2 linked regions of the Homo sapiens genome follow. The protein of the gene in region 2 purifies or fractionates together with the protein of the main gene of each other region. This does not show direct contact. Each region holds a gene or a part of one and is shown on either strand. Other genes may lie near its edges.

Evidence for each region.
Region 1: the proteins of MACROD1 (region 2) and PARP2 purify together in Homo sapiens (affinity purification with mass spectrometry; 2 studies listed by BioGRID and IntAct, with this or other methods). This does not show direct contact.

The regions. Positions count from the first base shown.
Region 1 is NC_000014.9:20,346,457-20,353,742, reverse strand, and holds part of PARP2 (poly [ADP-ribose] polymerase 2), read right to left. Parts: intron 6,881-7,286; coding exon 6,830-6,880; intron 3,218-6,829; coding exon 3,121-3,217; intron 2,697-3,120; coding exon 2,621-2,696; intron 1,499-2,620; coding exon 1,396-1,498; intron 1-1,395. UniProt on the Homo sapiens protein: Poly-ADP-ribosyltransferase that mediates poly-ADP-ribosylation of proteins and plays a key role in DNA repair.
Region 2 is NC_000011.10:63,997,835-64,002,176, forward strand, and holds the end of MACROD1 (ADP-ribose glycohydrolase MACROD1), read right to left. Parts: intron 2,510-4,342; coding exon 2,393-2,509; intron 1,930-2,392; coding exon 1,808-1,929; intron 1,727-1,807; coding exon 1,696-1,726; intron 1,571-1,695; coding exon 1,497-1,570; intron 1,203-1,496; coding exon 1,121-1,202; intron 1,039-1,120; coding exon 1,034-1,038; 3' UTR 1,004-1,033; intron 854-1,003; coding exon of another isoform or gene 822-853; 3' UTR 724-821; downstream 1-723. UniProt on the Homo sapiens protein: Removes ADP-ribose from aspartate and glutamate residues in proteins bearing a single ADP-ribose moiety. Inactive towards proteins bearing poly-ADP-ribose.

The sequences.
Region 1 (7,286 bases), on a different chromosome or scaffold from region 2:
AAAAAGACTAAAACTTCTCCATTTTTTTGGATATGTGACTGTTTCCGGACAGTTTCAGCATCCTGGTATACCTCAGTTTATCTAAATTAAATTTTTTATGGTGGTATATATCCAGAAGTGAAAACAAATTTAAATGTTAATTGTTTAATCAGTTTGATTTTTTATCACTCCTCTCTTGGTCCATAACAATAAACTTCTGGTGCCAGCCGCAGTGGCTCACGCTTGTAATCCCAGCACTTTGGGAGGCCAAGACGGGCGGATCATGATGTCAGGAGATCGAGACCATCCTGGCTAACATGGTGAAACCCCGTCTCTACTAAAAATACAAAAAAAAATTAGCCGGGCGTGGTGGCGGGCGCCTGTAGTCCCAGCTACTCCGGAGGCTGAGGCAGGAGAATGGCGTGAACCCAGAGGCGGAGCGTGCAGTGAGCCGAGATCGCGCCACTGCACTCCAGCCTGGGCGACAGAGCGAGACTCCGTATCAAAAAAAAACAAAAACAAAAAAACGAAAAAAACAATAAACGTCTGGAAATAGGGCCTAAGATTTTATAAGAAACTTAGTAGGCCGGGCGTGATGGCTCACGCCTGTAATCCCAGCACTTTGGGAAGCTGAGGCGGGTAGATCACCCAAGGTCACGAGTTCAAGACCAGACTGGCCAACATGATGAAACCCTGTCTCTACTAAAAATACAAAAAAAATTAGCTGGGCATAGTGGCGGGCACCTGTAATCCCAGCTACCTGAGAGGCTGAGGCAGAAGAATCGCTTGAACCCGGGAGCTGGAGGTTGCAGCGAGCTGAGACTGAGCCATTGCACTCCAACCTGGGCAACAAGAATCAAACTCCAGCTCAAAAAAAAAAAAAAGAACCTTAGTAAATAACAGAGCCAAGACTAGAAAGGCACATTCTATCCTCATTCTTACTGTCCCTTTGGGATTACAAAGATCAGTGAGAGCACCCCTGAGGTGAGAAGTAGAAAGGATTCAAGATATCCTGGCCTGTCCCAGTCCAGGAATGATCTAAGCTATTCTGCTTTACCCTGAGTAAGAAGAAACAGGAGTAGGTGTGGTGCCTCATGCTTGTAATCTCAGGACTTTGGGAGGCCAAGACAAGAGGACTGCTTGAGCCCAGGAATTCGAGACCAGCCTGGGCAACATAGTGAAACCTCATCTTTACAAAAAAAAAAGAAAAAAAATCAGCTGGGCAGAGTGGCACGTGCCTGTAGTTCCTGATACTGAGGAGGCTGAGGTGGGAGGATCACTTGAGCCTGAGGATCTTGAGGCTGCAGTGAGCCATGATTGTGCCACCCAGCCTGGGCAACAGAGCACAGTTTTGCCTCTAAAAAATAAAATAAAAAAAGAAGATGTGTTTCTTTCGAAAAGTATAGTGAGAGTTACCTGAGTATTGGTGGCATAGTCCATCTGTAGCATATCATATTTTCCAGGCACCTTCTCAAACTTTTCTCGATCTTCCCAATTGTTTTTCGTTTTGTCAAGGAATCTGTAGAGTCCAAGGTGTAAGAAAACTTTACAAATAAAGGTCTACTATGAAGATGGACTTACAAGACAGAAAATCTCCAAAGAATTTATTTTCCAGCACTGAGCTCCTTTACACATCAACTTTCCATAAATCAAAATTAGTCTAATTCTAAATGAGGACACTAAATGGACAAAAAAGCTCTGGAGACAAATGGAATTTAAAAAATGGGAAAAACAATGCTTGTCCTTCCCAAACACCACAAAAGCCATTGAGATTTCAAACAAAAGATATCCATCTAATCTCTTTCCCTGAAAGAAACATGTTCTCCAATTCTCCAGAAAGTTCTTCATCTATATCATAAAGTTTTAAAAATTCTAACTGAATATTCTCTTTTTTTCTTTCCTTTTTTTTGGGGGAGAGTCAGGGGTCTCGCTTTGTTGCCCAGGCTGGTCTCAAACTCCTAGCTTCAAGCAATCCTCCTGCCTCAACCTCCCAAAGTGCTGGGATTACAGGCATCACCGTGCTCAGCCCCTAGTTGAATATTATCTATCCCAGGATAGTCTCCACTTATCCCAAATTTCCTAAATTTGTCAGTCATGTGTTAAATATATTAGATTCTTCTGTTTTTAGTGACTTTCAAGGTATTAGTTTGATTTAATCACTAAGGATGCAGTTTGGTGTTTCAACCACAGAATGTCAGGGTGAAAAGACATTAACATTTAGGCCAAATCACACCTATAAAACGAAAAGTTTTTTATAAGCCACACACTTATAAAATTCTTAGAGAAGGCAGGGCACGGTGGCTCACGCCTGTAATCCCGCACTTTGGGAGGCTGAGGCAGGCGGATCACCTGAGGTCAGGGGTTCGAGACCAGCCTGGCCAACATGGCGAAACCCCATCTCTATTAAAAATACAAAAATTAGCTGGGCGTGGTGGTGGGCGCCTGTAATCCCAGCTACTAGGGAGGCTGAGGCAGGAGAATCACTTAAACCCAGGAGGTGGAGGTTGCAGTGAGCTCAGATCATGCCATTGCACTCCAGCCTGGGCAACAAGAGTGAAACTGTCTAAAAAAAAATTTTTTAGAGAATATACATCTAAGAAGAGGAGGGTATATTTTTTTGTAGTCACTTTTCAGCACTCACTTCTTCTGAAAGATTTCCTTGGCCTTGTTGAGATTGCCTGAACAAGCCACCAGGCTGTGCTGTCCCATTTTCCCAACTGCAAAGGAAATGCCACACATAAGATAGTTCCCTAAGAGTAACAGGCCAGCTCTCCAAGATCTCTCTGCTTAACATCTGACAAACAGGCAGGAAAGGGAGAAGGGAAAGGTGAAAGGATTTAGGGAACTAATCATGTTGATACAAGTTACTTGCTAACTGCCATAGTCTATGAGCACTACTAGCAGTTCAACTATAGAAGAGTTTTCAGACTCAATGGGCTGCTCTTAGTTTTTCCAGTGGGAACTCTAAGGAGGATGCCTGCCATTCCCCAATTTCAAGATGCTCAACTTGATTCCTAAGGCTCTCCCAGACTTCAGAGCCTCTACTGACCCAATTTAAACCCAGAGAATCCTTTGGCCACCCACTAAGCTGCTTCTGACTTTCTGAATGCCAACTCATAAAATCTCAATAAAAATCATTACCTCGGCCCCATCTCATCCAAACACTGAAGTTCCTCTGGGCATCATCTTCTAATAGCTGAATCAGATAGTACTTGTTGTTGTTGAACTGGAGATTGGTCTATGTTGAGTGAAAACAAAAACAAAAAAAAGGAGTTTTGCAAATGGAAATCACATAAACCAATGACTCATCCTTCGTCACAGGTGCCAGTTATTTCCATAAGGAAAAGGATAGCATCAGGCAAGAAAATTAGATTCCTGTAAGATTAAAGATATAAAGAAGAAATAGGGCTTATACATTAAACTTTGGATTCTTAGGAATTAAAGTGGGAGCCTAGAAGCTTCCTAAAACCCTCTATCCAACCTCAAATATCCTACATTGAATGGCTCCTCCAGTTTTTTCCTGCCTCAGCTCCCTATTTAGATATTTTCTAAGCTATATGTGTTTTCCAGCTCCCAATCCACTCCCAATAATTATTTCCCAAATGAAAACAATTTGGATGCTCCAAAGGTCTAAACCTGTTATGCTCAACTGTTAAATGACTTACTCCTTGACAGTTCTACTCACAGCTTTTGTTTGTCAGCTGCAGAAATTTGACAATGAGCTGAGAGCAGGGCAATAATGGGAGGGGACAAGGGATACGCAAAACCACTGCCACATCCGTCCCATACCTAACCTGACCTGACTTGGAGATACTGAGAGAGAATATGGCCAGTATCTAAAAAGAGGTATCTGTAAGTAAATCACTCAGAGTGAAGAGAGAGAAGTCCATGATAAGGCATAGCAGCTGGTGTTGTATGGCCGAGCCCTGGATATGGAGGCATTCTTTTTTGTTAAGCATGCTGCCCCTTCCTACCTCTATCTCCTGCTTGCTCACATTCTAAAGCCATTGTACGACCTTAGCCCACTGGTGAAAAAAAAAAGGTCATTAGATGTTAGAACAAAAAGGAGCCTAAGATATTTTCTTTTTTTGAGACAGAGTCTTGCTCTGTCGCCCAGGCTGGAGTGCAGTGGTGCAACCTCCGCTCATTGCCACCTCTGTGTCCTAGGTTCAAGCAATTTCTTGTGCCTCAGCCTCCCTAGTAGCTGGGATTACAGGCACACGCCACCATGCCAGACTAATTTTTTTTTGTATTTTTAGTAGACATGGAGTTTCAACATGTTGGCAAGGCTGGTCTTGAACCCCTAACTCAAGTGATCTGCCCGCCTTGGCCTCCCAAAGTGCTGGGATTTTAGGCATAAGCCACCATGCCCAGCTTGATATTTTCTTTTCCTTTAAAAAATTTTTTTGTAAATGTTTTTATGGTTTTTATTTTTTATTTTTTTGAGATAGGGTCTCCCTCTGTCACCCAGGCTGGAGTGCAATGGCTCAATCACAGCTCACTGTAGCCTCAACCTCCCAGGCTCAAGCAATCCTCCCACCTCAGCCTCCAAAGTAGCTGGCCCATGCCCGGTGTTTTTGTATTTTTTTGTAGAGACAAGGTTTCACCATGTTGCCCAGGCTGATCTTGAACTCACACCTGAAGTGATTCTCCAGCCTTGGCCTCCGAAAGTGCTAGGATGACAGGCATGAGCCACCACACCTGGCTGCCTTAAGGTATTTTCCTTCTTTTCTTTTTTTTTTTGAGAAGGAGTTTTGCTCTTGTTGCCCAGGGCTGGAGTACAATGGTACGATCTCGGCTCACCACAAACTCCGTCTCCCAGGTTCAAGCAATTCTCGTGCCTCAACCTCCCGAGTAGCTGGGATTACAGTCATATGCCACCACACCTGGCTAATTTTGTATTTTTAGTAGAGATGGGATTTCTCCACATTGGTCAGGCTGGTCTTGAACTCCCGACCTCAGGTGATCCGCCCGCCTCAGCCTCCCAAAGTGCTGGGATTACAGGCGTGAGCCACTGCACCTGGCTAACCTTAAGGTATTTTCTATCTGCTCGTGGTATTTTAAGTAGAAGAAATAGTAAGAAATAAATACTAATTGGTTGTTAAAATTATATATGTTGGATCAATAAATTCAAACATGAAGTCATATCCAGGAAATATATTAATGAGGCAAATGTATTATCTACTCAAAACCACAAAGGTAAACAAGAGAAAAAGGTTGATTAAAAAGAAAGCTGAGCTTGGGGGCAGATGCCTGTAGTCCCAGCTACTTGGGAGGCTGAGGTTGGAGGATCACACGAGGTCACAAGTTCAAGGCCAGCCTGAGCAACATAGCAAGACACTGTCTCTAAAATTAAAAAAAAAAAAACCCAAAATTTTTTAAAAAGGAAAAATTAATAAATTTAACTACAGAAAAAATTTAAAACTTCAATATGGGCAAAAAGTGTACTATAAGGAAAACCAAAAGGTAAATGACAAATCTGGAAAACACAAGTGGTTTGTATTACAGACAAAAGGCTATTCTCCATATTATATAAAGTTCCTCGAAACCAGTAAGAAAAGGACCAATAACTTTAGAAAATGTGCAAAACAGCTTGTCCCAGTGGCTCATCCCTGTAATCCCAGTGCCTCATGAGGACAAGGCAGGAGGATCATTTGAGGCCAAGAATTCAAGACCACCTATCCAACATAGCGAGATTCTCATCTCCATAAAAAATTTAAAAATTAGTCAGGCTTTGTGGCATGCGCCTGAAGTCCGAGCTACTCAGGAAGCTTAGGTGGGAGGATTGCTGGAGCCCAGAAGTTCAAGGTTGCAGTGGGCTATGACTGTACAAACTGCACTCCAGCCTGGGTGACAGAACAAGATCCTGTCTGTTTAAAAAAAAAAAAAAAATGTGCAAAAGGATATGAACAGAGAGTTAACAATTTCAATAAATGATATGAAATTTGCAAAAAAAAATCTTCTCACAGAGGACTCTGCTATCTGATAAGAGTGTGCTAGGGCTGAGTACTCAGGTGTTTAACCACTAATGGCTAATATTAATATAAAGGACTTGCCGGGCGCAGTGGCTCATGCCTGTAATACCAACACTTTGGGAGGGTGAGGTGGGTGGATCACCTGAGGTCAGGGGTTCAAGACCAGCCTGGCCAACATGGTGAAACCCCATCTCTACTAAAAATACCAAAAAATTAGCCAGACACTGCACCTGTAGTCCCAGCTACTTGGGAGGCTGAGGCTGGAGAATTGCTTGAACCCAGGAGGCAGAGATTGCAGTGAGCCGAGATTGCACCACTGCATTCCAGCCTGGGTGACAGAGCAAGACTCTGTCTCAAAAAAAAAAAAAAAAAAAAAAAAAAAAAAAAAAATATATATATATATATATATATATATATATATATATATATATACACACACACATATGAAGGACTTTAGGCAAGGCGTGGTGGCTTACACCTGGTAATCCCAGCATTTTGGGAGGCTGAGGTGGGTGGATCACTTGAAGTCACGAGTTCGAGACCAGACCCTGGCTAACGTGGCGAAACCTTGTCTCTACTAAAAATACAAAAAATTAGCTGGGAGTGGTGGTGCACGCCTGTAACCCCAGCTACTTGGGAGGCTGAGGCAGGAGAATTGCTTGAACCTGGGAGGCAGAGGTTACAGTAAGCCGAGATTGTGCCACTGTATTCCAGCCTGAGAGATGAAGTGAGACTCCATTTCAAAAAGAAAAAACAAAATTTAAAAAAAAAAAAAAAAGGGACTTTAAAGATCTGAACACTGTGATGCTATCATCAATAATTATCAAGAAGATGGTCTCATAAATATAATGGTGCCACCTCTTCTTGCCTCTTACCTGATTTAGCATGACATCATAGACATCATTTCCTTCACAATACACATGAGCCTAGAAAGGGAGAGAGAGAAAAAATCAACATTAGTATAGGTTCAGCCCTGACATCCTAAATGAGGCTCTAAATTTTCTTATGGCTCAAGTCATCATTCTACAGCAACATCAACATTCATCTCCCAAGGAAAGAATTGCAAACCTATGTTCTACCAGTAACCTGGGTGTAACCTTACTATAAATGAAAACATGCTTCCTTTTTTTTAACTATACAAAAGATTCTGAGTTAGGCTGCGCATGGTGGCTCATGCCTGCAATCCCAGCATTTCGGGAGGCTAAGGTGGGCAGATCACTTGAGGTCAGGCATTCGAGACCAGCTTGGCCAACATGGTGAAGCCCCGTCTCTACTAAAAATATAAAAATTAGCCCAGGCTGGGCGTGGTGGTGGGCACCTGTAATCACAGCT
Region 2 (4,342 bases):
AGGCCTCTTGGAGGCCCCTCCTGCTTCGTTGGGTTCTGCTTCCTTCCCTTCTTAGCTGGCTCAGGGGCTTCTATGGGATCCTGGAAGTTCCTTAGGGACTTGCCCAGGGTCCCAGGGCCACCCACACTTCATCTGCTCCCTCATAGGCCCCACCTCCACGTCCCGGCTGGGCCCCAGACCCCAGCTTCCTGCCCTCCACCGGGAGTCTGCATGGTTGGGAGTCCTGGGTGGAGGGGCCTTTGTGAGGCTGGACCCGGCTCAGGGCAGGTGGAGGAGCTGGGCCTCCCACAGGGTGCCCGGGCAGTGCCATCCTGGTGGGGGAGGGCAGCCTTCAAACGTGTGGGGTCTACAGTCCTCAGGTCTAGGCAGGGCTGCCGGTTCTCCACCTCCCCATCCGCCCCAGGCCCCCTGCCTGTGCCTGCCTTGCACCCCCTCTGCTTGGGCCACGGTGTCTCTGCATTGCCTGCCTTTTTGCCTTCACCTCTTTTCTTCCCCGCCCCCTGCACATTCGGGGTCTCAGCCCCCAGGCTGTGAGCTCCTTGGGGGCAGGCCCTCAATAAATGTGAACTGCTGCTGCCGCCTCTGCCGTCCGCCTGTGCCTCTGCCCGCCTGGCTCACCGAGAGCTCTTGCCAGCCCCTTTCAGTGAAAGCATCTGGCCAGGGGCTCCATCCAACACCTGGGCCGCCTTCCTTCCCCCCAGTCAGAGCTCAGACAGTAGGAGCTGCCACAACGAGATCTTTATTAGGCTCCTCGGGGGCGGGGCGCGGAGGGAAAGAAGGGGTGGCCAGGCCCAGGCCAGGCTGCAGGCTTTGGCGACCTCTCAGAGCTGGGAGCGGGGTCCCGAAGGCGGGTCTGAGGGCAGAGCAGAGTCAGAGGTGTCTATGGGCGTCCCCGACCTCCCAGGCTGCCCCGTGGTTTCCCGCCCTGCTTGGGGGTGAGCGGGGGTTAGTGGGCGGGTTAGTCTAGGGCCGGGGCCGCCGCACGGGGCGAGGCCCTGCTTACCAGTCCCGGTCAGGGTGGGCTGCGGGAGCCTCAGGCTGGAAGGCAGAGGACAGTGAGAGCCCGCCCCCAGGGTGGACCGGGGCAGGGGCGGGCCGTGGGGCGGCGCGGGGCACGTACCCACGGGGAAGTAGTGGGGGAGCCGGCTCCGGTAGATGTCCTCGTCCTTCTCGAGGAACACGCAGATGATCAGCCGGTCCACCTGCGCCAGGGGCTGCTCAGCCTGGGCCGAGCTGCCACGCCTGGCCCCAGGATCCTGTGACTGCCTGCCCTGGTGCAGGCTTTCACCTGCCTGGCCCTGCGCCCTTCACGGAGGCTCACGGCTGTGTGCCATCACCCCCATCTCGCCACCGCCAGGCGCCCTTGCGCAGGAGAAACAGGGAAGGAAGGGGCGGGCCTGGCCCTGCGCTCTGCACCCTGACTCCCTGGGCGATGATGGGGGCTGGTCACTCTGGCCGGGATGCGGACCCCACCCTCGCCCGGGCCCAGGACTCACCTTGTCCTTGTGCTGCTCCAGCCACTCTCGCAGCGTGGCCAGCACGATCTCGGCGGCCGCCTCACAGGGGTAGCCTGAGGCGGGTGGGGCGGGAGTGAGTCCTAGGCTCTGGCCCCGCCCACTCCCCTGTCCGCCCCGGCCCCTCCCGGCGTCTGGGTCCACCGCCCACTCCTGGTCCTTGCCTTTCTTCCAGACTCACCAAACACGCCGGTGGAGATGCAGGGGAACGCCTGGGCGGGGAGGGGTGAGAGGGGGTTGGAACATTGTCACTGCGCCCCGCCTCCCGCCCTCCCCCGCGGGCCGTCCCTCACCACCGAGCGGAGCCGGTGCTCCAGCAGCAGGTCCAGACTGCTCAGGTAGCAGCTGCGGAGCTCGGCAGCCTGACTGGCGCTGGGCTCCCCGTAGGCGATGGGCCCCACTGTGTGGATGACGTCTACGGGGGGCGACGGGGTCAGACCGGCGGGGGTCTACGCGGTCCTCAGCTCCCTCGCTTCCCCCTGCCGGCCTGGGCAGAAGGGGGCAGGAAACACCTTTCCCCCCAAGCGCTGAGCCTCCTCCGCGAAGGCCCCCACCCCTGTGGGCCCCCTCGAGCCCGAATCCGCACGCGCACAGAGCCCCGCGCCCCCTCCCCACATCTGTATGGGCCCGGCTGAGACCCGAGCGCGAGTGTGGGCGCGAAGGCGTTGCCCCCCAGCTCCATCCTCAGCCTCCACGCACGGTCTCCCCCATGTGCTTCCTGGGGTGTGCGGGGTGGGGGCCGGGTCTTGGCCCTTAAGGTTAAGAAGGGCCCCCTGAGGAGTTCCCCAGCACTCCTGTGGGGGCCGCACCCCTGATGTCCCAGTGACACACGGGCGCCCTGTCTGCGCCCCACAGCTGGGGGCGCGTCGGGGACTCACACTTGGCCGGGAGCCGATAGCCGCCGGTGATCTTGGCCTTGCCAGTCTTACAGCTCTGCAGGGTCCGGCACTCGTCGGTAAGCAGGGGGCCGGCGGCCCGATGAATGCAGCCGTCCACTGCGGGAAGGGCGGGCGCGACTGAGCTGGCCTGGCAAGGCTGCGGCCCCGGGGTGAGCACCCTCAGTCCCGAGAAGCCCCTCGGCGATGCGAGGACCCATGCGGAGCCGCGCCCCAACCCCGTGGCCTCCGGCCGCGGCCGCTGCCCCCACCCCCGCCCGGAATGTTTCACATCTGGGGAAACCGAGGCGCAGAGCGGGACGGCCCTGGGCCTGGCGGGAAGTCGCGCAAGGAGGCCGGCAGGGGGCGCACCCGGCCCACCCTGTCCCTTCCAGGCCGCGCCGCCAGGGCCCAGGCAGGGCGGCTCCGGGAGGCGGGGGCCGCCGGGACAGGAACCGCCGCCCGAGCCGGGGTGACGGGGAAGCTTCCTCCCCGACGCCCCTCCCTAGCCCTGTCCCGGGCGCGCTGCAGGGCCCGCGACCAGTCGCTGCCTCCGCCCGGGCCTCAGCGTCGGTGCGATCCCAAGGCCCACCTCCCCAGGCGGCGCCCCATCACGGGGCGGCGGCAAACCCTAGGACCCATTTTGCGGATGAGGAAACCGAGGCCACCTTGTTACAGGGTGATCAGATCTGTAGCTGGAGTCTGGGTCTTCCAGCCGCGCGGGGAGGTGAGCCCGACGCCCGGGCCCGAGTCTCCTGGCGCGCAAACCCCAGCTGGTTAATGAACCGCCTCGTTAGCGCATCCAGCTTAATTACGGCCCCGCATGGGCTTGTTTATCCGAGGGCGGCTGCAGGGCCTCGCGAGCGACCCTGGGGACCCGGGCGCAGATAAACAACCGGGGCGCAGCGGGAGGCATGGAGGAAACGCTCCAGCAGCCCAACCTCGCCAGGGCACCGCGCAGGAGAGGCGCGGCCTCAGGCAGGCCTGGGTCCAGCCCGGGCTCACCCCTCATCGGCTGTGAGATCCTGCCCCTTCCCCTCTCTGGCGTCCACCCTCTTATCTGGAATACCGGGACAGCGACCCTCCCACAGAGGAAAACGCCGCGTGCTGGCCGGGAGGACAGGGCCCATCTTTGGCAGCTCTGATCGCCCACGCCAGGAGCTCCTCAGGCACCAGCTGCCTGGTGCTCACAGGCGGGCATCAAGAGAGGACCATCATTCCCCATTTTACAGATGGACAAACCAAGGCCACCTTCTCCTTCATCACCTCAGTCTCGGCACAGTTCCAGGGATGCCAGGTAGCTCACACCCCTTTCTTTTGCTGTTTGATCTCGTGCCCTGGGGGCACAATTAAACCTCATTCTGCAACTTTACTCAGAGCTGGCACCAGGCAATTTCCCAGAGCGTCCCAGGGATGGGTGGGCAGAGAGGTTAGGGGAACGCTGAGAACGGCTCAGGCCTGGATCCCTTCCACCTGCTCCTCTCCTCTGCAGGGAGAAAGGCAGCTGTAGCCCAGGGCGAGGCTGAGATGGAGCAAGAAGGCAGGGCCCAGAGCGGGCGTCCAGGCTGGAGCTCCCAGTGCTGGGAAGTGAGTGTTCCGAATGGGGTGCCGTGGCTGGGCTGTGGAGCTGGGCAACGTGAGTTCACATCCTGGCTCTGCCAGCCACAGATGTGTGACCCCTCACATATCATTTAACCTCTCTGGGTCTCAGTTGCTCCATCTGGAAAATGGGATAATAGCACCCACCTCAGAGCTCATTGGGCTGTTGGAAGGATTGAGTTAAACTAACTTTGTAATGTGCTTAAGGCAGTGCTTGGCAAGAATGGAGGTCATGAGTGTATCCTGTTATTAACAACAGTGTGACAGTGTGGGCATGTTCGGGTATGTGTACATCAGTGTGATGGGAGGTGGGTGCACACAGGGTGTTCACAGTGTGTGGGGGTGAGCCCAGGG